Homo sapiens: one gene and its partners. The protein of the gene in region 1 binds, or shares a complex with, the protein of each later gene. Each region holds a gene or a part of one and is shown on either strand. Other genes may lie near its edges. A codon is read from its position in the direction of its gene.

The links.
Region 2: the proteins of RAB7A (region 1) and PDZD8 are in contact, whole or in part, in a crystal structure (PDB 7F6J), measured with the Homo sapiens proteins. Residues at the interface, in NP_004628.4 of Homo sapiens: Lys10 (codon at 3,788), Leu14 (codon at 3,776), Asp16 (codon at 3,770), Ser17 (codon at 3,767), Lys38 (codon at 1,182), Ile41 (codon at 1,173), Gly42 (codon at 1,170), Ala43 (codon at 1,167), Asp44 (codon at 1,164), Phe45 (codon at 1,161), Gln60 (codon at 1,116), Trp62, Gly66, Glu68, Arg69, Phe70, Gln71, Ser72, Leu73, Gly74, Val75, Ala76, Phe77, Tyr78, Arg79, Thr98, Ser101, Trp102, Glu105, Phe106; in NP_776152.1 of Homo sapiens: Ile999 (codon at 2,298), Lys1000 (codon at 2,295), Leu1001 (codon at 2,292), Val1002 (codon at 2,289), Arg1003 (codon at 2,286), Lys1004 (codon at 2,283), Glu1005 (codon at 2,280), Gly1007 (codon at 2,274), Leu1008 (codon at 2,271), Asp1009 (codon at 2,268), Asp1010 (codon at 2,265), Phe1013 (codon at 2,256), Ile1014 (codon at 2,253), Lys1017 (codon at 2,244), Gln1044 (codon at 2,163), Leu1051 (codon at 2,142), Asn1054 (codon at 2,133), Asn1055 (codon at 2,130), Val1058 (codon at 2,121), Leu1077 (codon at 2,064), Leu1084 (codon at 2,043), Gln1085 (codon at 2,040), Thr1088 (codon at 2,031), Ile1092 (codon at 2,019).
Region 3: the proteins of RAB7A (region 1) and CCZ1B are in contact, whole or in part, in a cryo-EM structure (PDB 9L0D), measured with the Homo sapiens proteins. Residues at the interface, in NP_004628.4 of Homo sapiens: Ser17 (codon at 3,767), Lys21 (codon at 1,233), Tyr37 (codon at 1,185), Lys38 (codon at 1,182), Thr40 (codon at 1,176), Ile41 (codon at 1,173), Gln67, Glu68, Arg69, Phe70; in NP_932765.1 of Homo sapiens: Glu38 (codon at 2,830), Glu41 (codon at 1,481), Lys55 (codon at 1,439), Asn56 (codon at 1,436), Ile59 (codon at 1,427), Arg60 (codon at 1,424), Gly63 (codon at 1,415), Leu64 (codon at 1,412), Ala67 (codon at 1,403).
Region 4: the proteins of RAB7A (region 1) and RUBCN are in contact, whole or in part, in a crystal structure (PDB 6WCW), measured with the Homo sapiens proteins. Residues at the interface, in NP_004628.4 of Homo sapiens: Ile41 (codon at 1,173), Gly42 (codon at 1,170), Ala43 (codon at 1,167), Asp44 (codon at 1,164), Trp62, Gln71, Ser72, Leu73, Gly74, Val75, Ala76, Phe77, Arg79, Ser101, Asp104, Glu105, Ile108, Gln109, Ser111; in NP_055502.1 of Homo sapiens: His818, Asn821, Met822, Lys824, Thr825, Arg827, Leu883, Gln885, Ala886, Lys887, Gly888, Phe889, Ile890, Glu892, Gln895, Glu897, Ile900, Pro903, Cys915, Lys916, Arg931, Arg934, Arg938.

The regions. Positions count from the first base shown.
Region 1 is NC_000003.12:128,792,164-128,799,182, reverse strand, and holds part of RAB7A (ras-related protein Rab-7a), read right to left. Parts: intron 3,824-7,019; 5' UTR 3,816-3,823; coding exon 3,763-3,815; intron 1,241-3,762; coding exon 1,114-1,240; intron 343-1,113; exon of another isoform or gene 1-342.
Region 2 is NC_000010.11:117,281,441-117,288,459, forward strand, and holds part of PDZD8 (PDZ domain-containing protein 8), read right to left. Parts: intron 4,360-7,019; coding exon of another isoform or gene 4,331-4,359; exon of another isoform or gene 4,254-4,330; intron 4,032-4,253; coding exon 1,828-4,031; 3' UTR 1-1,827. UniProt on the Homo sapiens protein: Molecular tethering protein that connects endoplasmic reticulum and mitochondria membranes. PDZD8-dependent endoplasmic reticulum-mitochondria membrane tethering is essential for endoplasmic reticulum-mitochondria Ca(2+) transfer.
Region 3 is NC_000007.14:6,823,257-6,831,149, forward strand, and holds the start of CCZ1B (vacuolar fusion protein CCZ1 homolog B), read right to left. Parts: upstream 3,020-7,893; 5' UTR 2,942-3,019; coding exon 2,822-2,941; intron 1,482-2,821; coding exon 1,384-1,481; intron 1,293-1,383; coding exon 1,199-1,292; intron 911-1,198; coding exon 833-910; intron 105-832; coding exon 57-104; intron 1-56.
Region 4 is NC_000003.12:197,677,887-197,684,905, forward strand, and holds part of RUBCN (run domain Beclin-1-interacting and cysteine-rich domain-containing protein), read right to left. Parts: intron 6,332-7,019; coding exon 6,271-6,331; intron 5,554-6,270; coding exon 5,421-5,553; intron 4,730-5,420; coding exon 4,584-4,729; intron 4,014-4,583; coding exon 3,949-4,013; intron 3,482-3,948; coding exon 3,243-3,481; intron 1-3,242.

The DNA of each region.
Region 1 (7,019 bases):
CTCTCAAGGGCAAACACCAGGTTCTTATTAGGCTGTGCTCCCAAGTCATGGTCTGGTTCTAAGTGTGAAGATGAAACATGATCACATTGAAAATTTGAAATCACTGGTCATCACAGAGCTGGGAAAATTACTGTAAACCTCACAGGCAGGTTAAAACTGCCCCTGGAATGATTGGCCCCAGATGTGATGTGCAACTCAAAGATCTAGAAAAATGACAGGATAATCTACTCCTATCCCAATAGTTTGGTTTCAAAGTGAGGTTGTACTGACAACCTCAGCTGGCATCATGGACCATGAAGAAAGAGATGAAAATACAGGAGGGAAAATCCTGGGATTCTTTTTTTTTTTTTTTTTTTTTTTTAAATTTAGAGACAGGGTCTCACTCCATCACCCAGGCTGGAGTATAATGGAGCAGTCACAGCTCACTGCAGGCTCAAACTCCTGGGCTCAAGGTATCCATCCTTCAGGGGTTTCTTTTCTAGGGATGTTAATACATGTATACAAACAAAATGACTCAATGGGGGAAAAAAAGGGAATAATAGTTTATAGCCAGAATGTGAAGGCTTTTCAACAAGTCATATGAAAGAATCTGTATCTTATCCTAACTGTTGAAAGGGAACCCTTGAAAGATTAATAAGCTGATACATAAAAAAAAGATTGGCTCAATAGACACACAACTCTTGAAGTTACGTATGAAATAGGAAGTCAGAAAAATAAAGTTTATGTCTCACTACTGAGGTGAGACAAAGATGTTTACCTAAAGCACTGGGCAAGGATGTCAAGAGAGGCACAAGACAGAGACCTGCAGGTTGCCAAATTTAGCAAACAACAAAACCAAAAACAACAAAAAACAAGAAAGGATAAATCTGAGTTTTTTTTTAAGAAGAATTTTTTAGTGTGTCTTAGCAAGTCGTATCTGAGATACACTAGAAGTATACTAAAAAAGTATTCACTATTGATCTGAAATTCAAATTTAACTGAGTATCAGCCAATTATCTACAAATAAGATAATAAGATTTGAAGAACAGGGAAGGAAAATGTCTATGCATGAGGAAAGATTAAGACTAAATGAACTATCAAGGCCTGGTCAGCACAGCCAAGACATGTGCTTACCTGCATTGTGACTAGCCTGTCATCCACCATCACCTCCTTGGTCAGAAAGTCAGCTCCTATTGTGGCTTTGTACTGATTGCTGAATTTCTTATTCACATACTGGTTCATGAGTGATGTCTTCCCGACTCTGAAATTGGAGAAAAACCATAAGTATAAGTCAAATAGGAGGGTCCTGAAACTGACACGAATTACTTGAAGCATTTAAAAGAATCTGCCTGACCTGAAGGACAAGAAACTGCCCTCACAGCAAAGGGCAATGCCAGTAGCCTTCCGAGCATTACACTTTTGAAGTTTTGTGTTTTCTCTCTGGGTAAAAATATAGGGTACAGATGTGGGGCAGATGTGGAAAAGCTGCTTACATGTTTTGGCACAGCCAGGTCAAATGGTAGAGCCTAGTATTATTTTTTCCATTCTAGAAGGATGCCAGCAAATATACTGCTTTCTAAAAGAAGCTTCACTATTAAGACTGTTCTGCTATTCCAACAGTATCCCTGCTATCTTAGATGTTTCTCCATTTAGTGGCTGCTATTTAGCTTGATGAAGTAACACCAGGAGGAAGACCTTGGCTTTCAGCAGACACACACCACTCAGACAATTTGCTGCTTTAAAGTTTAAAATCTGAAGCAGAAAAAGCACCAATATATCACCAAAACAAATCCACCTCAAAGAATGCTCCTCCAAATATGTTTTCTAGTAAGAAAACTCAGCAAGAGACAATGTGTGATTTTTGTGTGATAAGGTTAAGGTAACCTAAAGCTAATACAAAAACCTTCCCCCCCATAGCCAGTGATATCACCTTTCTTGGCCACAAAGGAACATGTTCATATTTGTGTTAAAGAACCTGGAGGTACCTAGACAGCCGAAGGCAGTGTTTTCCAACCCAGACCATCTAAGCCAGAATCTACAAGGTGAGAGGTGGCAAAACCTGGAATCGAACAAGGGCTTGGTGAGACTTTTTGCACAAGTTTGGGGAAGGCAGGCCTAAAAGCACTATCTTTCCATCCCGACGGGGATGGAGTTGCGGGGTAGGAGAGAGAGCACAAATCTAGGCCCTAGCCCACTGGTCTGGGGCTGGGCAAATGCTAGCGAACAAAAGGTTCTTCAAAGGCTGGGCATGGTGGCTCAAGCCTGTAATCTCAGCACTTTGGGAGGTCGAGACGAGTGGACTGCTTGAGCCCAGGAGTTTGAGACCAGCCTGGGCAACATGGTAGAACCCTGTCTCTATAAAAAATACAAAAATTTAACCAGGAGTGGTAGCACACACTGGTGGTCCCAGCTACTCTGGAGGCTGAGGTGGGAGGATGGCTTAAGACCAGGAGGTTGAGGCTGCAGTGAGCTGTGATTGCACCATTCACTTTAGTCTGGGCAACAGAGCGAGACCCTGTCTCTCACACACATACAAAAAAAGGTTCTGCAGGTGATTCAAATAAGCCAGTCAAGACAGAAAAACCTCTGGCTTTTCAAAGGAAGGGCAGGGGACTTTGGAATAAAGAAGCATACCTGCATTTGCTATTGTTGTTATTTTTAAAAATACATAAGCTTCCAATGAGTCAAAGCTTTCATGGGTCCCTTCAGATGCCAAGTCTGAAAAGCCTACCACAGAATCTTTTTATTTTAAGAGTTGGGGTCTTGCTCTGTCACTCGGGCTGCAGTGCAACGGCATGATCATAGCTTGCTACAGCCTCAAACTCCTGGGCTCAAGCCATCCTCTCGCCTCGGCCTCCCCAGCAGCTGGAACTACAGGTACGGCACCTGGCTAAATTTTTTTTGTAGAGACAGGTCTCCAACTCCTGGGCTCAAGCAATCCTCCCCTCAGCCTCCAAAGCACTGGGATTATGGGCATAAGCCACCTCACCCAACCTACCACAGAATCTTAAGAGCCATTAGAGTTAGCTACATGGTTAGTGGCACATCTAGAATCAGAACCCAGTTCTGCCGTCCCAGGCTCTTTTGCAGATAGATCTGAAGCAGGCACAGCAGCAGGAGGATACTGTATGGTGCACTAAGAACGCACATCTGGGTCGGGCGCGGTGGCTCACGCCTGTAATCCCAGCACTTTGGGAGGCCGAGGCAGGCGGATCACGAGGTCAGGAGATCAAGACCATCCTGGCTAACACGGTGAAACCCCATCTCTACCAAAAATACAAAAAACTAGCCGGGCGTGGTGGCGGGCGCCTGTAGTCCCAGCTCCTCGGGAGGCTGAGGCAGGAGAATGGCGTGAATCCGGGAGGCGGAGCTTGCAGTGAGCCGAGATCGCGCCACTGCACTCCAGCCTGGGCGACAGAGCGAGACTCTGTCTCCAAAAAAAAAAAAAAAAAGCACATCTGCTACGCCAGATGCCAATGGCAATACATCTACGTAAGGAAGACTCCCCAGCCTGGCCAGCTTGGAGAAAAGGGATTCCATGAAAATGCCTATCCTTAGTTGAGTTCAAATAGCCATCCGTTCCCCATAAAAAATCATGCTAAAAACTAGAGAACAAAAGGTTATATAACAAGGGATCATCTAAATTTCTGCCGTGGAGGGAAACATGTAAGGCCCTAAGCCTCACTATGAAAGCAAGAAGTGGCAGCACGGACAGTGTGGGCTCCACAGCAGAGAGGCTTAGCTCTAAGCCAATCTGTTAGCTCAAATTCATGAGTAACTTACCCAGAATCTCCCAGGATGATAACCTTCAGCAACACTTTCTTCCTAGAGGTCATCCTTCAAACTAAAGGGGGAAAAGGAGAAATCACTGTGAGTGTGATGGAAACACCAAAACAAAACACCTCCCTTGCACAAATGTCTGAGCAGCCCCAACAGTGCAGGGCCCTGAACCTTCCTGCTAGGTATCTTCCTTCCACCAGGGGGCACTGATAAAAAACAGTATCACTCACCAAAACTCTGGACCCAAGAGCGAGGCAGAACAGCACAGCAGGGCCATCCTGCCCCTGCAAGCTGTTGGAGAGAATGTATTCTCTCACTTGGGTGGTGGATCAATTGAATGGATTGGCAATTTGAACTAATGCTCCAACTTACTCAACAGCTTGGTCCTTGCTTCATTCAGGTCGCTGCTTCAGTATCACTTTCTCAAAGAAGTGACCGCTTTATTTAAAGCAGCATAACCCCTCATTTGCTCTCTATCCCGTTACTCTGCTTGCTTTTCCTTCAGAGCACTTACCACTAATTGACATTTTTATGTACTATATTAATCTAGTCTATCCCTTTTCTAACAATCTCCATGAAGACAGTTTTACTCCCCACTGTATACTCAATGCCAAGTAGAAATTTATTAAATGTTGGGTACCGTCTGAATACTTGACTCTGCAGCTCTAGTGACTACTCTTTTCCAGAAAATCTTTCAGGCAGCCTTGTCTACTCATAACCAGAAGATGTGAAAAATGCCTGATCTCTGCTCAACTGTCTTCCAGGACTTGCCACAGCATGGTCTATCTACTCATCAAGACAGGGCTCCTGCTGTAATTGCCTCTCATTTGCCAGGGTATGACTCAGTGACTTCCAGAAAATGAATGGGACTCAGAAGAACTACTTGTTAGTTTCCTCTTTAACCACCTACCTTTTGAAGGCAAGGCTGACAGCAGTGCCTATAGTGGGAGTGACTTAAGCAGCAGATATGAACCCAGGCCACAGGGATTTCTATTCTGGTTTTGCCGCTTATTAATTTAGCTATATGACCTTGAGCCAGTCATTTAATTTCTCTGTTGGAATAGGGAATATAGAGATGACAGCTCTTATGTCCTAAGAATGCTGTGAAGACTGAATAAATAAAATGCTCAGGACAGTAACTAGAATACAGCAGATGACTAGTAAATACTGGCCGCTACCATCTTAAGGTATGCCAAATACAGAGATGAGTAACAGAACACAGAGTCCAGAAGACAGTGAGAGAAGCAGCAGGTTACAGCTCCTAGGCAAGGTAATCCAGCTATCCCTCTCTTTCCAGATGCTTGGCTGTCAATTGTTCTCTTTCTCAAGAGGTGGTATTACACCCAAGACCACTAACTAAAAGGAAATATCAGACCTGACTACTGTCCTAAAGGGCAGGATTTGCTAAGAAGGCCTACGCTCTTGAAAGTAACCATCCTCGATGGCTTCAGAGTCTGTTTCTGGCTACAAGAACAGTATGGGAATAGGAGCCAGACTAGAGGATGGTTTGCTAGGCACACACCCCAGGTCCCATGACCTATGCAGAGGGTCAAGCTGTTTCTCTGCCAAAAGCCTCATGCCCATGGCTGGACTGTGAAGACACGGTATCTCAGCCCACCAGCATTCATCTAGAAAGTTCTTACTAGTGCTAGTTAGGGGCAGTATAAGATGACTTGGAGTTCTGTCTTCCATCATAATCAGCACTGAGAGGTATACCCCAAACTATCCATTATATGTGGAGCCCCACTATTCCCCTACCTTTCTCCCCAGGGACCGCTTTGACTGGTCAAAGTTTAAATGTCACACTCTAAGGTCTGGTATCATATTTCAAGATAGAGATCAGATGATGATAATGGGGGCAAGTTTCAAATAGAAAGAAGGGGAGGCCAAGGTAGGCAAATCATGAGGTCAGGAGTTCGAGACCAGCCTGGCCAACATGGTGAAACCCCGTCTCTACTAAAAATAGAAAAGGCTGGGCACGGTGGCTCATGCTTGTAATAACGGCACTTTGGGAGGCCCGAGGTGGGTGGATCACAAGGTCAGGAGTTCAAGACCAGCCTGGCTAACATGATGAAACCCTGTCTCTACTAAAAATACAAAAATTGCTGGGCACAGTGGCTCATACCTGTAATCCTAGCACTTTGGGAGGCCAAGGCGGGCGGATCATGAGATCAGGAGATCGAGACCAGCCTGGCTAACACGGTGAAACCCCGTCTCTACTAAATATGAAAAATTAGCTGGGCGTGGTGGCATGTGCCTGTAGTCCCAGCTACTCAGGAGGCTGAGGCTGGAGAATGGCTTGAACCCGGGAGGTGGAGGTTGCAGTGAGCCGAGATTGCGCCACTGCACTCCAGCCTAGGCGACAGAGCGAGACTCCGTCTCAAAAAAACAAAAAACAAAACAAAATTAGCTGGGCATGGTGGCACGCGCCTGTAATCCCAGCTACTCAGGAGGCTGAGGCAGGAGAATCGTTTGAACCCGGGAGGCGGAGGTTGCAGTGAGCCGAGATCACGCCACTGCACTCCAGCCTGGGTGACAGTGCGAGGCACTGTCTCAAATGAATAAATAAATAAATAAATAAATAAATAAATAAATAAATAAATAAAAATTAGCTCGGTGGGTGCCTGTAATTCCAGCTATTCGGGAGACTGAGGCAGGAGAATCGCTTGAACCCAGGAGGCAGAGGTTGCAGTGAGTGGTGGGGAAGGGAAAAAAAGGCTGGGTGTGGTGGCTCACACCTGTAATGCCAGCACTTTGGGAGGCCGAGGCAGGTGGATCACTTGAGGTCAGCAGTTCAAGACCACCCTGGCCAACATAGTGAAACTCCATCTCTACTAAATACACAAAAAAATAGCTGGGTGTGGTGGTGCGCACCTGTAGTCCCAGCTACTCGGGAGGCGGAGGCAGGAGAATCGATTAAATCCAGGAGGCAGAGGTTGCAGTGAGCTGAGATCACACCACTGCACTCCAGCCTGGGCGACAGAGCAAGACTCTTTTTCAAAAAGGAAAAAAAAAGAAAATAGATAAAAAGATGATAAAAGGATATGCAAAGATATTTGGAGAATATTTATGAAAGTGACTGATTTTAAGAATGGGAAAAGGGATTTGCATAACTTGCTTTGTTAATAGGTTTCACTGGTGTACCAATGCTGTTTAATAATATTAAAAAGAAAAAAAACAGGAAATACACTTCAACCTCCAGACTCCTACATGATAGAATTCATGTTTGTTTCCTTCCCTTTGAGTCTCTACCCACACGT
Region 2 (7,019 bases), on another chromosome or scaffold:
AAACTTGGCTAAGAAAGGTATTTAGTACCTGAAATTTTCGCTTACTAAAGTAACAAAAGGCATGAGACTTGGCTATTGATTTTTAAAGTGGAATAACTTTTCTCCCCTCAAAAATGTCTTTCTTACTCATATAAATAATGCCTTTTACTTGTATATCTTTTTACTGTTCAAAGCACTTTTGCAGTTATGCTATTGTTTCCCTCACAACAATACTGTGAGGGAGGTAAAGTATTATTATTCCCATTTTAGAGATGGGTCCTTTTGTAACTGCCTATGCTTACACAGTTCATTAATGGAAGGGCTTGAACTTAAACTCTTTTATGGAGTCCTGGAGTCTAGACCTGGGCCCCAGTCCTTAATATTACACCATGCTTTTTCCTGCCAGCAATAAAAGCTGCTCCATCTAGTTTTAAACTCATGTCAGTTTCACTATATAGCAATCATCATAGCAGTTACCTACAAAGGGACAAACATATACTTGTCTATTTTATAGGTATATAACAGACCGAAACCATTAAGGTACCCCAACAACAGTCGAGCTTACTTGTTTTCCCTCAGTCAAATGTTACTGGGACCCGTAAAATGGACCCAGTGTGAGTATATCTTCATTTTCAGAGAACTGGTCCCAATTCCTATGTATGAATACTATTTTTGTCATTCTTTTCTTAATGAATACTCACTACAGAAGTATTCAGAATGATCACCATTCCTTTACAACTGTAAGACGCCAAAGCAAAAAGTATATTTTGCATGATTCCTTTCCTTCACAGAATACTCCTACATGAAAATGTTTTTTCTAAAACAAAACCAGCCCAAACTAGTTATCAACACAGTCATTTTAAAAAGAGTCCTCCAAAACTTTAAATACCCTTTCACATGCTTTATTTCCTATGGGAGAACTGATGAGGAAAATTATCATAAATGTTTAAACTTTTAATTATAAAATTTAAATTTCCATTTAAAAGGAAAGCATCAATATTTTAAAAGATTATATTTCAAAATGCTATGTTACTGTTTTTCAGTAATTAAGTCTTGTTATCCTCTCTACAAAATTCTTGACCAACTGCAATCTACATTTATTTCCTATTACATTGTCTTTCAATGTAAGCTCTTCAAATTAATCACCATATTTTTACCATACAGCTGCACAAAAGCTTTAGAAAAAAATTTCACAGAAGCATCGAAAGCAAGCAATATATGTAAAAAATTTTTTTTTACTAAATCAGCATAACAGACTAAAGCTGCAGCATCTGCTTTCATGTTACATTTGGCAAAAACAAAACAAAAAGCACCCCCAAACCCCCAAAATAACAAAAATCTCAAGCAAGTAGAGACGATAAACTTCATAACACAAAAGAAAGATTCAAAACCTGTTCCCTCAGTGATTGCTGTTGTCAGTTTGGGCATGCAGCAAATTTGTTATAACCATGATGGAAATGAAAATATTTTAAGAATCTAGACAGTATTCTATTTAACACTAATTCAAAAACCAAGAGGAAGAAAAATAACACAAGGGGACACCATACATACATAAACATGAAAAGCTAGCTTACATAATTACATAATTAGAAAAGTTAAATAATTTAGTAAAAATAAATTCCCAGTATAAACCCAAAAAAGCATAGCTATAAATGCAATCCAAAACAACCAATTAGTAAGCTGGTCATGTTTTTACTGGAAAACAACCTTTCTCATTTTTGTTCTTACACAAGCAAGTAACTGGAGAAGCAGGCCAGAGTGCATACGAGGATTTAAACATGGTTGTATCTGTGGTACTTTAGATGCAACTTTACCCTGTTCATTTGAAAGCTTAAATAGACCTGTCTGCTACACAGACTCGGATGGGCCAAATAAGTCATCTGATATGCTGCTGAATGGCTGAGAGTCTATTAGTTGGCTTATTTCATTATCAAGGTCTTCTTCTGTATCATCTGTGTACTTGCTTATTTTTTTGGAGTGCTGGTCTAAAGACAGACTTTCTAAAGTTTCTATATCTTCAATGCCTGCTCTGTAGTGAATCATAAGAAGTGTTAGAGCTTGTAGCCTTTCACCTGATTTAGCTAAGGCAGCAGAAAGAAGTGATTTTTTCCTTGTATCAGTTGTCTCTTTTTCTTCTCTAACAAGGGAATTATTGTGTTCCAACTCCTGATCAATTTCATTCTGTAGCTTATCCAACATGAACTCTAGTTTCTGGATCCTTTCCTCTGTAGGCAAGCCCCTGTACAGATCACGACCAATTTCTTTAACTGCAATGAAAACACTGTCATCCAGACCACCCTCTTTTCTCACTAACTTTATTCCTGTGCTGTTTCCCCGTTTAGAAGGACTGTTTGGACCACAGACCTCCGTGTCACTGCCTTCGTTGTCTGACGTGTTGGGTGTGTGTTTTGGTGAAGGTTCTACGAGATCGGTTCCTGGTTCAGAAAGGCGAGTTTTAGAGACTTGACGCAAATTTAATAAACGAGAACTAGTATTGATAATATGCCTTGTCAAACCTGTTGTTTTATTGACTGACTTGCTAGCTTCAGCATCAACACGAGGAGGCAGGCCTAAGAGGGTTTCCTGTCCTTCCAGCCTAAGGTTTTTCAGTGTCCTGTCTATTCGCCTATCAGTTGCTCCACAAACAGAAGTCTCAGCTAGACACTTTTCTTGACATTTTTTATGGCAAACATAAGCACAAAACATACACTGGGAAGCTGCTTTAGTCCAAACTTTTTTCTTACAGTAGTCACACCATGTTGGGTTCTGGAACTGAGTATCCTGAAAACTGTGTTTGTTTTCTGTTAAACCCATCTGTCCAACAAATTGCTCCTCTTTAGGGAGAACAGAAACTTCTTCAACCAAATGGGGTTCTTTTTCTTTTTCTACGTTAGTAACTACATGGTGGTCTGATTCTCCTTCTTTCAAATATTTGAAGTGAATAGTAATGTCACCATAGCAAAATTTGTCATTGAATCCCTTTTGCATACTCAGATTGCGTAGTGCGGTTCTAGTGACTATAGCCTTAGGTGAGGGGGCTTCCAGTCTCAATTTGGAAAGGTATTCCGTGTTTGATGTAGCTAGGCATCCTAAAGCCACATCTTCAAGTTTTAAACTAACATGCCCCAAACAGATGAGACCTCCCAACTTGAAAGGATCCCTGCACCACAATGCAATGTTTAAGTACCTGTGACAGGCTTCTATGTCAAACAAACAGGATGCTCTGGTTCTTGTCCATTTTCCTAGCTTATTACGATAAAGAATTTCTGATGATTCCCATGTTTGACGGTCGTCCGAACTGTCCTTAGTAGGGCAGGAAGTTTCTGAAGTGACATCTTTGGCCACTTCTTGCTTTGCTAAAAATTGCTTAGGTGCAGCTGCATCGTCTATGGCATCCACATTTTTTGCTTGCTTTTCAGCAGATTTATCTACAAGAGGAGGTGGCACCACCTTCTCTGGCTTTTCAACGAGAACATCTGGTTCTGCCTGATTTGGAGCATCGGCGGAAGGCAAAGGAACTTTCGCTTGTGGTCGTGGTGGCACAGGTGGTTTGAAAGCAGATCCTTGGGTTGGTTTTGACACTTGTGCTGGGTCTGTTATCTCAGAAGTTTTTAGGGGTGGAGGTTTATTTCCATCTTTGGACTGAATTTTCGGTGGTAGTGGGTGACTTCCTACAGCTAATTTACGGTTTAAAACTGGTGATATAGCTCCAAGGGGTTTAATAGAAAGTGTTGTTGGAACACGTTTGGGACTATGACTTAATGATTGTGCCTCATCTTTGAACTCATTTTGTGCTCTGACATCACTTGCCAAGTCTTCAAATTCAGAATCCAGCTCTCTACTTTCAGTATCTACTGTCAACCCGGCAGCTTCCTCTTCATAACCCGATTGGCATGAGCTTGACAAAAAGTTTTCTTCCAACTGGCCAAAGTTATCTTGCAGCACTGCACCTTGATTACTCTGGCCAACAGGCCTTTCATAGTACACCAGGACTCGGTCACCAGCCTGCTTGATAAGCTTCAACACTTGCAGTGTTGATGTGATTTTCACACCTGGTTTAAGATTTTAAAAGGGAAAACATGTAAATTATTGCAATAGAAATTACTACATTTGTTAAATGTATTTAATTAAATATATATAATTGCCATTACCTCTGGTTATTTAACTAATAGAAGAATAATAGGAAAATCTCAACAATATTTTATTTGGCTTTTGGATGAATCAGTGTGCTAATTCTCAAACCCTGAATGTGCTGATATCCTGGAGATGTTTACCTTTTCAAACCAGATGATGACACAGGATCCCAAAAAGAGTGCCAGGATGCTAACTCCTAATTGCTTTCTATCTCTTCTTAGGTTAGATGACATCTCTCAGTTTGAACTGAAGAAGTGAACAGAGAGAGATCTATTTAAAGGATTCTATTAATGGCTAAATCAGACTTAGAGTGAGGGAAAGCTGTGATTCCACTGAAGGAAATTCTAAAATACTCCAGGGATTACAAGACATATGATGAAAGATTCAAATTAAGAGAGCAGTGCTTGAAAATAATGTAGCAAAATACTATACTATGAATAACGTACTTTTACAGATTCTTTTTATCAACCGTACCCATCACATTCATCTTTTTCAAAACCAGAAAGAACAAGTAAGGGATAAACTGCTTTAAAGTTAAACAAGCTGGTTACTATCTGCATCTGTAATATCTACGTTGTTTTTATTTTTCTTATTTTTTAATTGTTACACGTAGTTTAAAATTTGAAAGGTATAAAGGTATAAAAAGATGTACAGTAAAAAATATTCTTTCCACCTCTGTCTCCCAGCCATACTGTCCCTTCCCTGACCTTAGTAGCTTCTAGTGTATGCTTCTATAGATATTCTAGGTGTGTTAGCACTTAAAGGTGCTACTTGTTTCCTGTCACTCTTCCCACACTCTCTAAAACAGCACTTGCCCAAGCTATCCCTTTATGTAGAACTTAGAGAAAGAATGAGAAGGCTCTTTGTTTTCCAAAGATCTTAGGGCCATCCTAAATAAATCTAAGTAACACCACCCCTTTCTCATAACTTGACTTCAGGTTTCCTCAACCTGTGTCCTCTCTTACTTCAGCTGTCTGGGAAGATCAGGCTTTAGACTCGGTCATCACTTGGAACTTGTCCACATCAAAGATCTTTCATTTTCAATTAGTCTCTGATCACAAGCTCCTATTTTTCACCTCTTACAATCCTGTCTGCTCACTACTTTTAGGCAACTTCCCGGCCCAATCATTCCTCTTTTCTTCTCATGGTCCTGTTGGTCTCCTGATACCACTTGCTCTTCTATCCAACCCTGTGTCTCAAGATTACAACGATGTTCTTACCAATATTTTATTTTCTCGTCCTCATGTTTTTTGATCCCCAGCTTTACTAGCCCCACTATTGCCCTTTCCTGCTCTTGAGCTTGCCGCTTGGATCTAGCATCAAGTTAGCCATCCATCTTTGGCAAGGTGTTCAGGGCTGCTTAGCATTCTTTTGATCAGTCTGTAAACAACTAAGTCTCTCAAACATCAGCTGTAAATCTTTCCTGTTTCCCTAAAGTCTACTCTCCCTACTCTCTTTTACTCTGTGCATGCTATCACCTTATTTGCCAAAAAGATCAATATGAAGCTACCTTTTCTCCCTACCATCATTTTTAGTATTATCTTACTTCAGAGGAGAAAATATCCCTCTATCTGTATACTTACTTTGGATCCAATCCTCCTGTCTCCTTCCTGACTTTGCTCTATCAATTATCCTTAAACTTTTTCTTCCTTTTCTTTAAAATTTTTCTTTTTCTTAGTTTCCACAACACTTTACACAATTGGTTCTGATCACCTCTCCTCTAGCTTCTTTTTCTCCACCTATACCACCTGCACCTTATATGCAACTGTTACCAAAGTTTGCCACTAGTTCTCTCACCCTTTTTTGCTCTCTCCCTGGTAAATTACAGCCACTCCAGTAGTCTCAAAAACTATCAACTTTTTCTTTGGTTTCCCTTCTTCTTCACTTTAGTTCTACATTCCCAACTACTGGACATCACCACCTGGATGTTCCTTTGGGACTAAATATTCAGCAGAGCTAAAACCTTTCTTTGACTGTCTCTCTGTCCTCACTACTATCAATCAACTTGCCACTCCCAGTTAACTCAATTTGAATCCTAGGGATATTTGACTCCCTAGAAACATTCAGCTGTCAACTCAAACTTGTGATTTCAGCCCATTTTCCTTCCCTGTTCAGATCCTCCTGATAACTGGCCTTCACTTTAGTAATAAACAGCTTTTAACTGCAATCTCTCACTCAGACCTTCCCTACTTTAAACACCAAACATATTGCTACGAAATTTTCCTAAAGCATTTGCCCCTTTAGCCTACAAACTTATCACATGGAAATTCAGAGCTTTCTAATATGGTGCTTCATTATTTATCTAGCTTTAAGTTCTACTACGTCCTTCTAACCATACTATGTCTCAGCAAAATTATAGTTTGACATATGCATAAATGAAAAATTAGTCCATCTAATGATCTACAGTAGGCAAAAACTTCAACTCAATCTGAACTCATTTTTTATGACTAAAAATCTGCCCTCGTCTCATCTATTCCTCAGTCATCAGGTGTTTTGTGGAGATGGCCATTGCAACTCTCTCTCAGGAATACACCATTCAAGTCTGGATTTTTCTTTTGGAATATTTCAAACACACTCAAAAGCTGAGGAAACAGTAAAATGAATTCCATTTTGAGCTTCAAATATAATATTTTGCCAATCTTATTTCAACTATCATCAATTATATACCCATATAAATGAATCAAAGCGATATAAAAATGTTTTGAAAAATATCTGTTGACATGGGGAAAGTTTACAACATGCTAAAAGAAATAAAGACTATTACAAAAATGCATAGTTTAGAAATTTTTGTTTCCTAAACAAAAATTGGGAAAGGCATATATTTATGTACAGAAAAAAACAAACAAACAAAAAAACAAAAAAAGAGACATACAAAAGCTTTTCTGTTATGTTCCAAGGTTTTTCTT
Region 3 (7,893 bases), on another chromosome or scaffold:
CCTAGAGATAGGGGTAAGTGGTTGGACTCTGAGTTGAGAAAGAACGCCACGCTTACCTTGTACATGCTGTAGCACTGCCGCAGCACCGAGCTATAAACCTTGTCCTGCAGACGCGAAAACACAGCACACAGCTCAGTTCAAGGGAAAAACAATGTCTACTGGATAGATGGCAAAGGTACACTGACTCTTGGCCAAACAGTATAATGTTTATAAACTTCATCCCACAATAGTTGCGTGCTGAAAAAAAGTGTTTGCGTTCTTTTTTTTTTTTTTTTTTTTTGAGATGGAGTCTCGCTCTGTTGTCCAGGCTGGAGCGCAGTGGTACAATCCTGGCTCACTGCAACATTTGCGTCCCCGGTTCAAGCGATTCTCCTGCCTCAGCCTCCTGAGAAGCCGGGATGACAGGTGTGCGCCACCATCCCTGGCCAGTTTTTGTAGTTTTAGTAGAGACAGGGTTCCGCCATATTGGCCAGGCTGGTCTCGAACCCCTGACCTCAAGTAATCTGCCTGCCTTGACCTCCCAAAGTACTAGGATTACAGGTGTGAGCCACTGTTCCCAGCCAGAAGTGTTTAAACTCTAATTTGTCAATCAGTAAGCCTTACTTTAGGAGGGCTTTCAATATAGATGAAGAGTAGAAGGTATTAGTGAGATTGGGTGCATATACATTTTAAAAAGATTGTGCTCATGTAAATGATAAACATAAACCTTTGCTATATACCCCGAGAAACTTCTGCAAAAGCCTCCTAGTTTAAATCCGACCAAGTAAGGCATTCAACATACTCAGCAATACATTTAAAAAAATAAATAAATAAACAAACAATGACACATTACCAACAACTCCTCCTCTTGATATTCAATAACTGGTTTTCCATCTTTACTCTGTTTTTCAATTATAGGATTCCGAACAACCTACAAAGTTTGATAAACTGAAATTATACAATGAATTCATTAGACCATGTTTATTTTGCCTTAATTTAAAAACTTTGAACATGCTACAGCACCAGAAACACAACTTCTTAAAACAGCCCCAAGAATGAATAAAGCAAATAGGAAGAACTTGATTTTAAAATTGCAACCAATTTTATTTTAATTTTACTTGGATGCAACAGCCAGAGAACTTTCCTAAATTCTGAACAGTAAAGATCACCCATAACTTCACCATACAATTTCAGAAAGATACACTGTGTGTGTAAATACCATGACCATCCAGAAATTTTCTTCTGGTTCATTGAAGAACTGTCTGTTCTTCTGTGTATGTAAAGATTTTGCAGGTTTTGATGGGCTAAATGTCCTACAAAGGTTAAAAAAATATGTTTGGGACAATTCTCCAGCAGCAGTTTTAAGAATTCACTGAACGCTAAAGGCACACTTAGAGGTATTACCTTGTAAACTGTACAATAGCTTCACACAATCCGACATTTCTAATCTTCTCATTCTTTTCTACCTCATTTGGATGATAAAATAAAATCTTATTTTCCTCCTGAAACATGAGGAAACAGAAGCACAACATGAATAGAAACATTTCATCTTAGCTATTGAAAACGCTAAGTTCAATGTCGACCTCTTGTGTCACACATGCTAATGACAAAATAAAACAAAAACCGGTTTTAGAAAAACAGGAATTGTAATCCTAGTATTTTCAGAGGCTGAGGCGGGAGGATCACTTGAGCTCAGGAGTTCAAGACCAGCATGGGCAACACAGTGAGACGTCTCTATTATTTAAAATAAGAAGAAGAACAGGAATGATCTCATCATTGTGCAAATACTGCCCACCAGTCAGAAAGGCAATTTCGATAGTCAAGAAGTCACATCTGAAGTAGCACCAGGTAATTTTTATGAAAACTCAAGTCTCCAGGTTTCTTTCCTAGTGCTAATTTGTAATACACCAATGCTTGTAAGAAGTAAAGGTGTGCCCATCTGCAGACACATAGCTCCCTGAAAATTAAATCCAGTCAGTTCCCAGCCATTTGAACTGACAAGTTGTTTTTTTTTTCTTTTTCTGGAGATGGGGTCTGTGCTGCCCAGGCTGTAGTGCAGTGGCGCTATTACAGCTCACCTGCAGCCTCAATCACTTGGGCTCAAGCGATCCTCTGGCCTCAGCCTCCTGAGTAACTGGAAATACAGGTGCGTGCCACCACGCCCGGCTCACTTTTCAATTTTTTTTTTTTTTTTGTAGAGTTGGGGGTCTTGCTATGTTGCCCAGGCTGGTCTGGAACCCCTGGCCTCAAGCAATCCTCCCATCTCGGCCTCCTAAAGTGCTGGGATTACAGGCGTGAGTCACAGCGCCCAGCCTGGACAGTCTTTAACAGAAGTCTGACTTGCTGGAAACAAAACACAGCTCCGGACATCCTTTGAGAAAGTCGCCGTCCCCACCTCAGAAAAACCACACACACACACACACACACACCCCTCCCGAAATTAATTTATTTCCTCATTTGGGCGAAAACTATTACAGGGACCTCCAGGCTTGCATCATTTGAAGGCTAGCGTCTGCCACCCTGGTTCCACGCTTCTAGTTGGGGACTACCCACTTAACAAAGCCAAGTTCAATTTTAATTTCCCAGAACTGACGCAAAGCAAAGCGCAAAGAGCCTCAACCTGGGGTGTGGAGTGATATAGACCCGACGGGGCTTTATTCCATCGACCTAGGACCTGAAGCGGTCCCTGCCTGCTGTCAGGTCCCCGCCGCAGCCCCCTGCCCGGACTCGCACCTGGCACAATGCAGGCTAGGTCAGTGCCCCTCGAGGTGGGCAGAACCACAGGGCCACCTTCCCGGGGAACACCGGCGCCGCCCGCCCGCGCGCCGCCCCCTCCGCATACCTGTCCTTCGCGCGGCCCGAAGCGCGGGTTGTAGATGAAGAAACTCAGCAGCGCCGGCGGGAACTGCTTCTCCTGGGCCGCCCAGGGCCCGCTCCCGGCCCCGGCCGCCGCTGCAGCCATCCCGCCCCGGCCCCCACCTCGGGAGCCTCCCACGGCCCGCCCAGAGACAGCAGCCACCGGCTAAAACACCGCACTTCCGCCTCCGTCGCCACCGCCCCGGAAGCACTCGCCGCAGGCCCGGAAAAAGAATCCGCCTCGCAGCGTCCTCTTCAGGCACCCCCGGGTGGCCTTGTTGTCTGTTTCCTGGCCGAGTTTGTGTTTTGCTGGCTCGCGGAGTTTTCTCCTGGCTACAGGCGAGGGCTGCGCGTTTCAGGAAAAACCGAGCGGGCACTGTTTTTTTGTTGTTGTTGTTTTTTCTGATAGGGTCTCAGTTTGTCATCCAGGCTGGAGTGTAGTGGCGCGATCTCAGCTCACTGCAGCCTCAACGTCCGACACTCAAGCAATCCCCCTGCCTCAGCCTCCCAAGTAGCTAGGATTACAGGCGCGCGCCACCAAGGCCAGTTTTATTTTTTTGTAGAGGTGGGGTCTGTGTTGCCCAGGCTGCTCTCGAACTCCTGGCCTCAAATGGTCTCCCACTTCGGCCTCCCAAAGTGCTCCGATTACAGGCGTGAGACACCACCGCCCAGCCTGTTGTTGTTTTGGTGGTATTGTTTTAAATTTAATTTAGAGACAAGATCTCGCTTTGTCACCCAGGTTGGAGTGCAGTGGTGCCATCATAGCTCACTGCAGCCTCAACTCCTGGGCTCAAGGGATCTTCCCACCTCAGCCTGAGGAGTAGCTGAGACCACAGGCATGCACTACCATGCCCAGATAATTAAAAAATAGATAGATAGATAGTAGAGACAGGGTCTCACTTTGTTGCCCCGGCTGCTCTCTAACTCTTGGCATCAAGGGATCCTCCTGCCTCTGCTACTGGATGGAAGGTCTTGACCGTGGATTGCCCAGGTTCTTGGCTTGTTGAACACAGAACTGAACAAAATGCAATGCACAAAGTAACAAAAGAACAAAGCAACGAAAAGAAACAAAAGAAAAAACCGGAGTAAGGAATAGACAGATTTATTGAAGCGAAAGTACAACTCACAGAGCAGGAGCAAGACAGAGCAAACAGCTCAAGAGCCCCCATTAGGATTTTCATTAAGCTGGAAGAATTAGGTAACGCCCCTAGGTGCCCGTTAGAGGTCTCCGATTGGTTACACCCTCTGAAGGATTGGCCTGTGACCAATCAGAGGCTGAAGTGGAGACGCGCACCCGCCCCCCCGTCAATCAGAAGCTGTCACCCTCCCCCCCGGCCAACCCCCTGTCGTCCGTCAATCAGCCTCTGATTGAGGGAATGAACACGTGGCCTCTATGCTGCCTAATCTTGCCTAGAACTGGCTGCACCTGCTGTTCTTTTGTTTATGCCTTAACCCTTGGTTACCCTCATTCCCTATTCTGCCTCACCTGCCCTCCGAAAGTGCTGGGATTACAGATGTGAGCCACCCACACCAGGCCCATTGTTTTGTTTTTAGTTTATTTAAAAAGTATTTTATTCTAAGACAGCACTTTGCTCTGTTGCCCAGGCTGGAGTGCAGTGGCCAGATCAGACCTCACTGCAGCCTGGAACTCCGGGGCTCAAGTGATCCTCCCACCTCAGCCTCCCGAATAGCTGGGACCACAGGTGCATGCCACCATGGCTGGCTAATTTTTAAATTTTTCGTAGAGCTGGGGTCTCACTATGTTAACCCAGGCTGGTCTCGAACTCCTGGGCTCAAGTGATCCACTGGCCTTGGGCTCTCCAAGTGCTGGGATTGTAGGCATAAGCCCCTGTGCCATGGCAGTTTTTTTTGTAGAAGGAAATGTAGAGACACAAAGGAAGCCTCATTTAGAAATAAACAAGGCTGGCCACGGTGGCTCATAGCTGTAATCCCAGCACTTTGGGAGGCCAAGGTGGGTGGATCACTTGAGGCCCAGAGTTCCAGACCAGCCCCGTCTCTACTAAAATAAAAAAACTAGCCAGGAGTGGTGGCACATGCCTGTGGTTCCAGCTACTTGGGAGGCTTGAGGCAGAAGAATTACTTGAACCCAGTAGGTGGAGGTTGCAGTGAGCCAAGATTGCACCACTACACTCCAGCCTGGGCAACAGAGCAAGACCCTGTCTCAACAAAAAAAAAAAAAAAAAAAAAAGAAAGAAAGAAGAAAAGAAAGAAAAGAAACACACTTAGGGGCAGATGTGCATTCCGTTTGGCCCATTAACATCATCTACAGAGTCCTTGTTTGAGAGACCTCAAGTGACCACTGGATCACCCACACCTACAAAGCTTGCCCCTTCCCCCCATTCCTTCAGCGCAGGTCTGGAGGCAGATGGGGCACCATGTGTGCCACGGGAGCAATATCAGAGGTGGCAGACTCCCCAGAGTGGCTGTTCCTGGACCTTGTCGCCTGGGATTCCCTTGCCTTTGAGTTGTGTGGGTTGTGGCATAGTTGGGATGGCTTGTTACAGTTATGTGGATTCAAGCCTTGGCAGCATATGGTTTGACCAAACTCAAGAAGACTTTGGTTTAGATTGCCTTATCTGTCACATATTAAGTTTGGAAGCAGAACCACTTCCCTTATCCAGCCTGGCAGATAAGGGAAGTGATGAGTTGGAATTTGGACTGGAGACAGATCTGGGTACATATCCACTTTTGCCATTCACCGACTGCACCAATCTCCTTGCACCAAAGAAGAGATAGAGACTCTCTCGTCTGTATCTCTTATTTGGAAAATGGCTAATAGTAAATTCCTGCCAAGTGAGAGTTTCACTTGAAGAGTTAAATGGGACTATGAATGTGCATCAGGTGCCAGCAACTCATCATTATTTCATAAACTGTTGACTTTCCCAATTAGCTTGCTCTAGTGCATGCAGTTATTCCATGAGAAATACATGTTTTGGCTGGGTGTGGTGGCTCATGCCTGTAATCCCAGCACTTTGGGAGGCCGAGGATGGCAGATCACTTGAGGTCAGGAGTTTGAGGGCCAACATGGTGAAACACTGTCTCTACTAAAAAATAAAAATAAATAGCCATGCGTGGTGGCAGGTGCCTATAGTCCCAGCTACTCGGGAGACCGAGGCAGGAGAATTGCTTGAACCCGGGAGGCGGAGGTTGCAGTGAGCTGAGATTGTGCCACTGCACTCCAGCCTGGGTGACAGAGTGAGACTCTGCCTCAGTAAATAAATAAATAAATAAATAAATTAATTAATTAATTAATATAAAGTACAAGGTGCTATATAAGTGAGTGAGATTAATATTTTATAGTATGAGTCACAGTTTCTCCCAGGATACCTCTGTGTCCTTGTACATGTTTGCCTCTCCCTTCCTCCCACATACAATTCATTGCAGGAGGCATCGAAAGAGGGAGATGACAAAAAACAAAATGAAACATCCAGAGATCAAAGAAAAGAACATGCTTTTATGGTTTCAAAGTTAAGGATGCAAGAACGCTTAGACCTCAATGCATCTGCCTCTCCAAACACAGTCCTTGGGTGTGCACGGGTACCAGGCAGGAGTGGTAGTGACGACAGATACCCACATAGGTTTGGAGGTCTCAGAGGAGAGGGTGTGTGTGTCTTTCTCCCTGGGGAAGCTGGGGGAGGTGGTGAGCTTTGCAGAGTTCCCCTCTGGGTCAAGCATGGTTTGGTAACAGTAGAGTAACCACGGAACAGGGGTATCTGGATGAGAAATCCTTATTGTTCAGGAAGAAGCTGAATGACTTACTTGTGCACAGAAGGAATTCAGAGAAAGCCAGTGCTGAGAAGCCTCAAGGTCAGGACCAGGAGGAGGTAGCAGTGGCCCCTCAAGACCACGAGAGTAGAGAGGATTGAGGATGACTCTGTGTTCACTATTCGGACTGAGAATACTCCAGTCCCATCTGGGGCCTCGACTCTCTCCCCTAGCCTATGGTAAGAAGGGAGAAGAGGTTGCTTAATTACCTGACATGATTAAGATTCTGACACCCAGCACAATGGGAATTCAAATCAAGTTCAGTTACAGAAATAGAAGTTAGATGTTTTGCGCAAAGAATTTGCGAACTCAAATTCCAAAGGAATGAGCTGTGGGAAAGACACATTTTGGTGTTGGAAAGGGAGCTCAGTTCCAAGTAGAAAGTGACAGTTCCAACCGGGTGCAGTGACTCATGTCGGTAATCCCAGCAATTTAGGAGGCCAAGGTGGGCAGATCACTTAAGGTCAGGAGATTGAGACCAGCCTGGCCAACATGGTGAAACTGCGTCTCTACTAAAAAAAAAATACAAAAATTAGCCTAGTGTGGTGGCAAGCCCCTGTAATCCCAGCTTCTTGGGAGGCAGAGGCACGAGAATCACTTGAACCTGGGAGTTGGAATTTGCAGTGAGCTGAGATTGTGCCACTGCACTCCAGACTGGGCTACAAAGTGAGACTCTGTCTACAAAAAAAAAAAAAGAAAAAAAAAGTCCCAGTTCCAGGCTAGGTGGTTCTGGACATAGGTTGTCACATATGTCTGTCTCCTCCCTATCAAGGTTATATATATATATATATATATATATATATGCGTGTGTGTATATATATACACACACCACAGACACACACACACACACACACACACACACATATATATATATATATATAGGTTTGAGACAGTCTTGCTCTGTTGCCCAGTTTATAGTGCAGTGGTATGGTCATAGCTCACTGCAGCCCCTAACTCCTGGGCTCAAGCGATCCTCCTGCCTCTGCCTCCTATATAGCTGGTCCTACAGGCACGGGCCACCATGCCCTCCTTCCTATCAAGGAAAGTGAACTTCTTGAGGCCAGGACTCTGTTGGGGCCATCTTCTGGTTCCTGTTGTCTAACACAGTGCCTGCGTCACAGGACACGGTAAATCTGTGTTGAATGAATGAATGGAGGAGGCAGGGGATGGGGAGGAGTGGGCAACAGACGTCAGAGATGGGCTTTCATCCTTCAGAGCTCAGCTACTGCTTATCCTATGAATGGAGCTCAGTCCACAGGCTGATCTGACATT
Region 4 (7,019 bases), about 69 Mb from region 1:
GACACCTGGCTTCAGACTGTCCCACACTCTGACTGACAACTGGCTTCAGACTGTCCTACGCTCTAACTCGACACCTGGCTTCAGACTGTCCCACACTCTGACTGACAGCTGGCTTCAGACTGTCCCACGCTCTAACTCGACAACTGGTTCCAGACTGTCCTATGCTCTAACTCGACACCTGGCTTCTGACTGTCCCACACTCTGACTGACAACTGGCTTCAGACTGTCCTACGCTCTAACTCGACACCTGGCTTCAGACTGTCCCACACTCTGACAGCTGGCTTCAGACTGTCCCACGCTCTAACTCGACAACTGGCTTCAGACTGTTGTATGCTCTAACTCGATACCTGGCTTCAGACTGTCCCACACTCTGACTGACAACTGGCTCCAGACTGTCCTATGCTCTGACAACTGGCTTCAGACTGTCCTATGCTCTAACTCGACAACTGGCTTCAGACTGTCCTATGCTCTAACAACTGGCTTCAGACTGTCCTACACTCTGACAACTGGCTTCAGACTGTCCTACGCTCTAACTCGTCAACTGGCTTCAGACTGTCCTATGCTCTAACTGACAACTGGCTTCAGACTGTCCTACGCTCTAACTGACAACTGGCTCCAGACTGTCCTACGCTCTAACAACTGGCTTCAGACTGTCCTACGCTCTGACTGACAACTGGCTTCAGACTGTCCTACACTCTGACAACTGGCTCCAGACTGTCCTACGCTCTGACAACTGGCTCCAGACTGTCCTACGCTCTAACTGACAACTGGCTTCAGATTGTCCTACGCTCTGACAACTGGCTCCAGACTGTCGTATGCTCTAACTGACAACTGGCTTCAGACTGTCCTACGCTCTAACTGACAACTGGCTCCAGACTGTCCTACGCTCTAACAACTGGCTTCAGACTGTCCTACGCTCTGACAACTGGCTCCAGACTGTCGTACGCTCTAACTGACAACTGGCTTCAGACTGTCCTACGCTCTAACTGACAACTGGCTCCAGACTGTCCTACGCTCTAACAACTGGCTTCAGACTGTCCTACGCTCTGACAACTGGCTCCAGACTGTCGTATGCTCTAACTGACAACTGGCTTCAGACTGTCCTACGCTCTAACTCGTCAACTGGCTTCAGACTGTCCTACGCTCTGACAACTGGCTCCAGACTGTCCTACGCTCTGACAACTGGCTTCAGACTGTCCTGTGCTCTAACTGACAACTGGCTTCAGACTGTCCTATGCTCTGACAACTGGCTTCAGACTGTCCTATGCTCTAACTCGACAAGTGGCTTCAGACTGTCCTACGCTCTGACAACTGGCTTCAGACTGTCCTACGCTCTAACTCGACAAGTGGCTTCAGACTGTCCTACGCTCTGACAACTGGCTCCAGACTGTCCTATGCTCTGACAACTGGCTTCAGACTGTCCTACGCTCTGACTGACAACTGGCTTCAGCCTGTCCTACGCTCTGACTGACAACTGGCTTTAGACTGTCCTACGCTCTAACTTGTCAACTGGCTTCAGACTGTCCTACGCTCTAACTGACAACTGGCTTCAGACTGTCCTACGCTCTGACAACTGGCTCCAGACTGTCCTACGCTCTGACAACTGGCTCCAGACTGTCCTACGCTCTAACTGACAACTGGCTCCAGACTGTCCTACGCTCTGACAACTGGCTCCAGACTGTCCTATGCTCTGACCACTGGCTCCAGACTGTCCTACGCTCTGACAACTGGCTTCAGACTGTCCTACGCTCTAACTGACAACTGGCTTCAGACTGTCCTACGCTCTGACAACTGGCTCCAGACTGTCCTATGCTCTAACTGACAACTGGCTCCAGACTGTCCTACGCTCTGACAACTGGCTCCAGACTGTCCTACGCTCTGACAACTGGCTTCAGACTGTCCTACGCTCTAACTGACAACTGGCTCCAGACTGTCCTACGCTCTGACAACTGGCTCCAGACTGTCCTACGCTCTGACAACTGGCTCCAGACTGTCCTGTGCTCTGACAACTGGCTTCAGACTGTCCTACGCTCTGACAACTGGCTCCAGACTGTCCTACGCTCTGACAACTGGCTCCAGACTGTCCTACGCTCTAACTGACAACTGGCTTCAGATTGTCCTGTGCTCTGACAACTGGCTTCAGACTGTCCTACGCTCTGACAACTGGCTTCAGACTGTCCTACGCTCTAACTGACAACTGGCTTCAGACTGTCCTGTGCTCTGACAACTGGCTTCAGACTGTCCTACGCTCTGACAACTGGCTCCAGACTGTCCTACGCTCTGACAACTGGCTCCAGACTGTCCTACGCTCTAACTGACAACTGGCTCCAGACTGTCCTGTGCTCTAACTGACAACTGGCTTCAGACTGTCCTGTGCTCTGACAACTGGCTTCAGACTGTCCTACGCTCTGACAACTGGCTCCAGACTGTCCTACGCTCTGACAACTGGCTCCAGACTGTCCTACGCTCTAACTGACAACTGGCTCCAGACTGTCCTGTGCTCTAACTGACAACTGGCTTCAGACTGTCCTACGCTCTAACTCGACAAGTGGCTTCAGACTGTCCTACGCTCTAACTGACAACTGGCTCCAGACTGTCCTACGCTCTAACTCGACAAGTGGCTTCAGACTGTCCTACGCTCTAACTGACAACTGGCTTCAGACTGTCTTACGCTCTAACTGACAACTGGCTTCAGACTGTCCTATGCTCTAACTTGCTCTAACTCACTCTGACAACTGGCTTCAGAGTGCCCTCTAGTCAGGGAAGGCCCCTCCGCCAGGTCTGTCTGCCCGAGTCACATAAGCAGTCTGGGCAGAGGAGTGCTCCGAAATTCCAATTTCTTACTCGATACCCGATTCCTCATTCATTCACTAATGTTTTTAGTGAAGGAAGAAATTCTGCTTTTGCCCTCAAGTGCTATCTACAGCTTCCTAGCTGCCATTGCCACGTTTGAGGCTCCAACTAGACAGATAACCTGGGAAATGGGAAGAGATTAAGAAAGTACATAGTGAGGGCATGAACGGAGAGACGGTTATAGCTTTGACACTGCGATAACAAGAAGTGTGGTAATTGTGGGAAGCCCTATATAACCAGGGGAGGGGACAAGGAGAGGAGACGAGGGGAGGGGATGGGGGGAGGGGACAAGAGGAGGGGATGGGGGGAGGGGACGGGGGAGGGACGAGGGGAGGGGATGAGGGGAGGAGAAGGGCAAGACTCTAAGGTGGCCTTTTCCAAGGTCTTACCCGGACTTGATTGAGCAGCTTGACCTTCCTATAGAGGGCACTGTTTATGTCCTGCACGTTGAAGAGAGGATCATTCCAGATCTTAATGAGCAGGTCCTTGGAGAAGTTGCTGACGTAGTACTTGCTGAAGTCCCACTTGCGCAGAACCCGGCTGGGGATGGCCATCTGGGCATTCTCGTGGCAGCACTGGCAGAAGTACTTGCCCAGGTACTCACAGTACCGCAGTCGCTTGATGTAATCTGGAAAAACCGGAAAGCCAGAAAGCCAGATGTAACTTTCCCATCTACAAGCTGGGAAGGCAGCTCTGCTTTTCCCTTGAAAGGGCAGAGAGGGACAGCCAATGGCCTCCAGCAACCTCTGTCTGAGTTCCCCAAAGCTTGCAGAAATCCACATAGTGGATCCTGGGGTGATAATGTCCTACCTTGGAGGCCCTGAGGAAATAAAACCAGCTGGAGATAGTAAGATCCCGCCTTACCAGCTAGCTGGAACTACCCAACTTTCCACAGGATACAATCCTGGCCATGTGCTCCCAGAAATCATTTCCCTCCGATTGCCAGCACTCTTGCCTACTACGAACCTTTCTTTCTCCTTCCCTACTTCTGCCACGCCACCTCCTGCTACCGCCTTTGACACGCCACCTCTCCCTACGTGTCGGGGAGGGTACAGAGCCTCTGGAGGCAGCATGGTGGGAAGGGAAGGCACTCACCAGGGTCAGTCCGGATGCCACATCCTGCACAGCGGTAATTCTGCTTGGCCACGGCAATTTTCCTCCTGAGGAAGGGTAAGGACAGGGCATTGGCACAGAGCAGCTGCGTGAGACCTTGGAGGTGTGAAGGAGTGAGCACACATACATACAGCTCCAGTTAAGTATGGGAAGAGAGGGGAATTCACCTACATTTTAGTTGGACAAAAATGAACCTATTGGGAGAGCTAACTCCATATAAGATTTAGGTCTAGGCAGTCACTCTGCCCAGTAAGGAACCACACATTCTGTACAAATATAAGGAATGAGATGTGGTAAAGGAGAGAGAATGACAGGAGAGAAGAGCATCCATCTATCTTAGAAAGAGAAGAAAAACCAGCAAGCCCACACAACTACTGGGAGGAAAGCTACAGGTTGGGAATGCCAGCAAAACAAAACCCGCCTCGTTTCCAATTAGCTCCAGGAATTAAGAGTAAGAAACGAAGGACCAAATGGACGACGCCCCCCCTCTGCCTTTAAATGAAGAGAACGGTGTGGGAAGGACAGCTGGAGGCAGGGACAAGTGGGTGAGACGAAAACCCTGACAATCCAAAGAGGACGGATCTGTGCTCCAAAGGGCACAGACACTGGCCACTCACGTTGGGGCTGGATGAACATTAAAAATTATCTGAGGCCGGGGCGGGGCCCACTCCAAGTTGCCACGAACACGAATCCGCAGCTTGTAGATGTCAGCGTGCTGCCCGTCATCCGGTGAGATGGGCAGTGAGTCAGGAATGGGCAGGAGCTGCAGGAGGAAAGCACAGTTGGGGTAAGCTCGTGTCAGTGTGCTGCCCGTCATCTGGTGAGATGGGCAGTGAGTCAGGGATGGGCAGGAGAAAAACACAGTTGGGGTAAGTTCACACGGACGGGCTTGAGAAACAGAAATGCGGGACCCTTTTGGCCATGACAGAGCATAATGAGTGAAAGACATTTCAGGAACACCACAGGATAAGGGCTTCAGGGAACCTCAGAAACAACCAGGAGGCGCCAAGGTACTACAAGTGAGGGCCGTGGGTTCCAAGAAGCAAACAGAAACAGCCTACCAGGGCAGTGGCCCCACGGCTCATGCTGTCCCTGCACCCATCCCAGGACCCTTGCTGTGCCAGTGTGTTTCATGCCTTAAAGACAACTGCAGAGCAAAGAATCCAAGCGATTTACTTTTGCGTAGTGTCTCCGAGGTGGTCACAAACCAAACATGACTGAGTCTGGCGAGCAGTCACGTGAATAAGGACCGCGAACGCGCCGTCATCTCTGCTCTGACAAGGTGAGCAAGCATTCACTCGTTCATTTATCACTTGACACATTGTAATGAATGGCTTCCACGAGTAAGGGGGGAACACCCAGGCTCATTCCAGACTAGGGACATGTGACGAAGGAAAACAAGGTCACAGAGGCTCACGATGGCCCCTGGGTAGGAAGAAGAGCTAAGGACCTACCTTCTGAGGGGCATCATGCTCCGGGACAAGCCACTCCAGCTCCGAGGCGGCTGGAAGCTGCATCCCCTCAAACTGCTTCAGGAGCCCCATGGCCACCGCCTCAGCAGACGTGGAGTGCAGGAAGCAGTGGGAGCTGGAAAGGGGAGAATCAAGGACGGCTGAACACAGGGAAAGGATGGGCGATGCGAGGCTTCCCTTCATGATCTCATCCCCCACGCAGCAACTTCTGGGCTGGAAGAACACCCGCAGCACCCTGGCCTGCTCATCACCCTCACACATGGGACAGTCAAAGTCCACTAGTCTCACGGTCCTAAGACTTCGGTTCAAGCCCCACTTCCTGCCACTGCACGGCACTGCTAATGAAGGACTCTGTCACTTCCTTTCTCTGAACTTCAGCTCCTCTAACAGCAAAATGGAGATTATAATGCCTGCTTACAAAACAAAGTGAGTAAAATTGCTTTGTGGACTACAAAGCGATTTTTCCTCCCAAATGAGCTACTGTGTCCCCTGGTTGGGTCTATGATGTGGAATCTGTTCAATTTGATTTCATAACCAAAAACCATCATCACTGCTCTCTTTTGAGACCTTCTGGGGCCTCTGGTTATGATGAGAGTCAGCAGAGAAGGAATAACTCACTTCCAGCTTTGCCTCCACGAGAGCCCATCCCACTGGGACCAAAGAGCTTCTGCTTTCTTCCCGTGGGCTCGGCACCATCAGCAAGCCCCTCCCTTTAACCTCGCCTCCTCTTACATCTGGATGGCTTTGCCCAGCCATACACCAAGAACTGGGTTTGTTTCTCTACATATCCTAAGGTTTTCTTTTCTTTTTTTTGGTAAAAAAAAGTACTCACAAGGACTGGGAGGAAACGAAGGATTTGCTGCTTGAGGCTGTGTTCCTTCTGATGTCAGCATCTACATGGAAACCAGAGATAAGGGGAGCGCAATGGAAACGGGGTGGGTAAGGGAACCTGGAATCTATTACAAGGTGCTCCCAGCTAAGCTCTCAGGGTAACAGCCAGGTGCCACACTCTATGCAGGAGAAAGGAGCAGGTGAAGCTCTAAACACAGGTTATAATTTGCCTCTATCCAAATCAAAACCAGGCTGAATTAGTAACATTATGCATAGCACTGAAAAGGTCAAAGTGTTACAAACTCAGGCAGAAAGACAAACTCAGCTTTGGTGTAAAACAGTGAATGAGAAGACGAGCATCCTAAGGCACACAGGGACACAACCCCTCATATGCACAAACACAAAACAAAGGACTCAAATCTCTCCCTCACTCTCCACATCTTAACCTTTCTCAAATGGTAAGCTCCCTTAGGCAGTAACTCTGTCTGGCTTATATATATATACATATATATATACACACACACATATATACACATATATATACATATATACGCACACACATATATGTGTGTGTATATATATACACACACGTATATATATACATATATAAAAAACATTTAGTGCCTAACACATAACTGGGATCATAGAGGTTCTCATGAAATATATGTGAAATTGGAACTTTGCTTCTAATATTTCACCACTGTTGCCATTACCCCGAATGTTAGAAGTGTCTGCAGTTTTGCCTCTAAC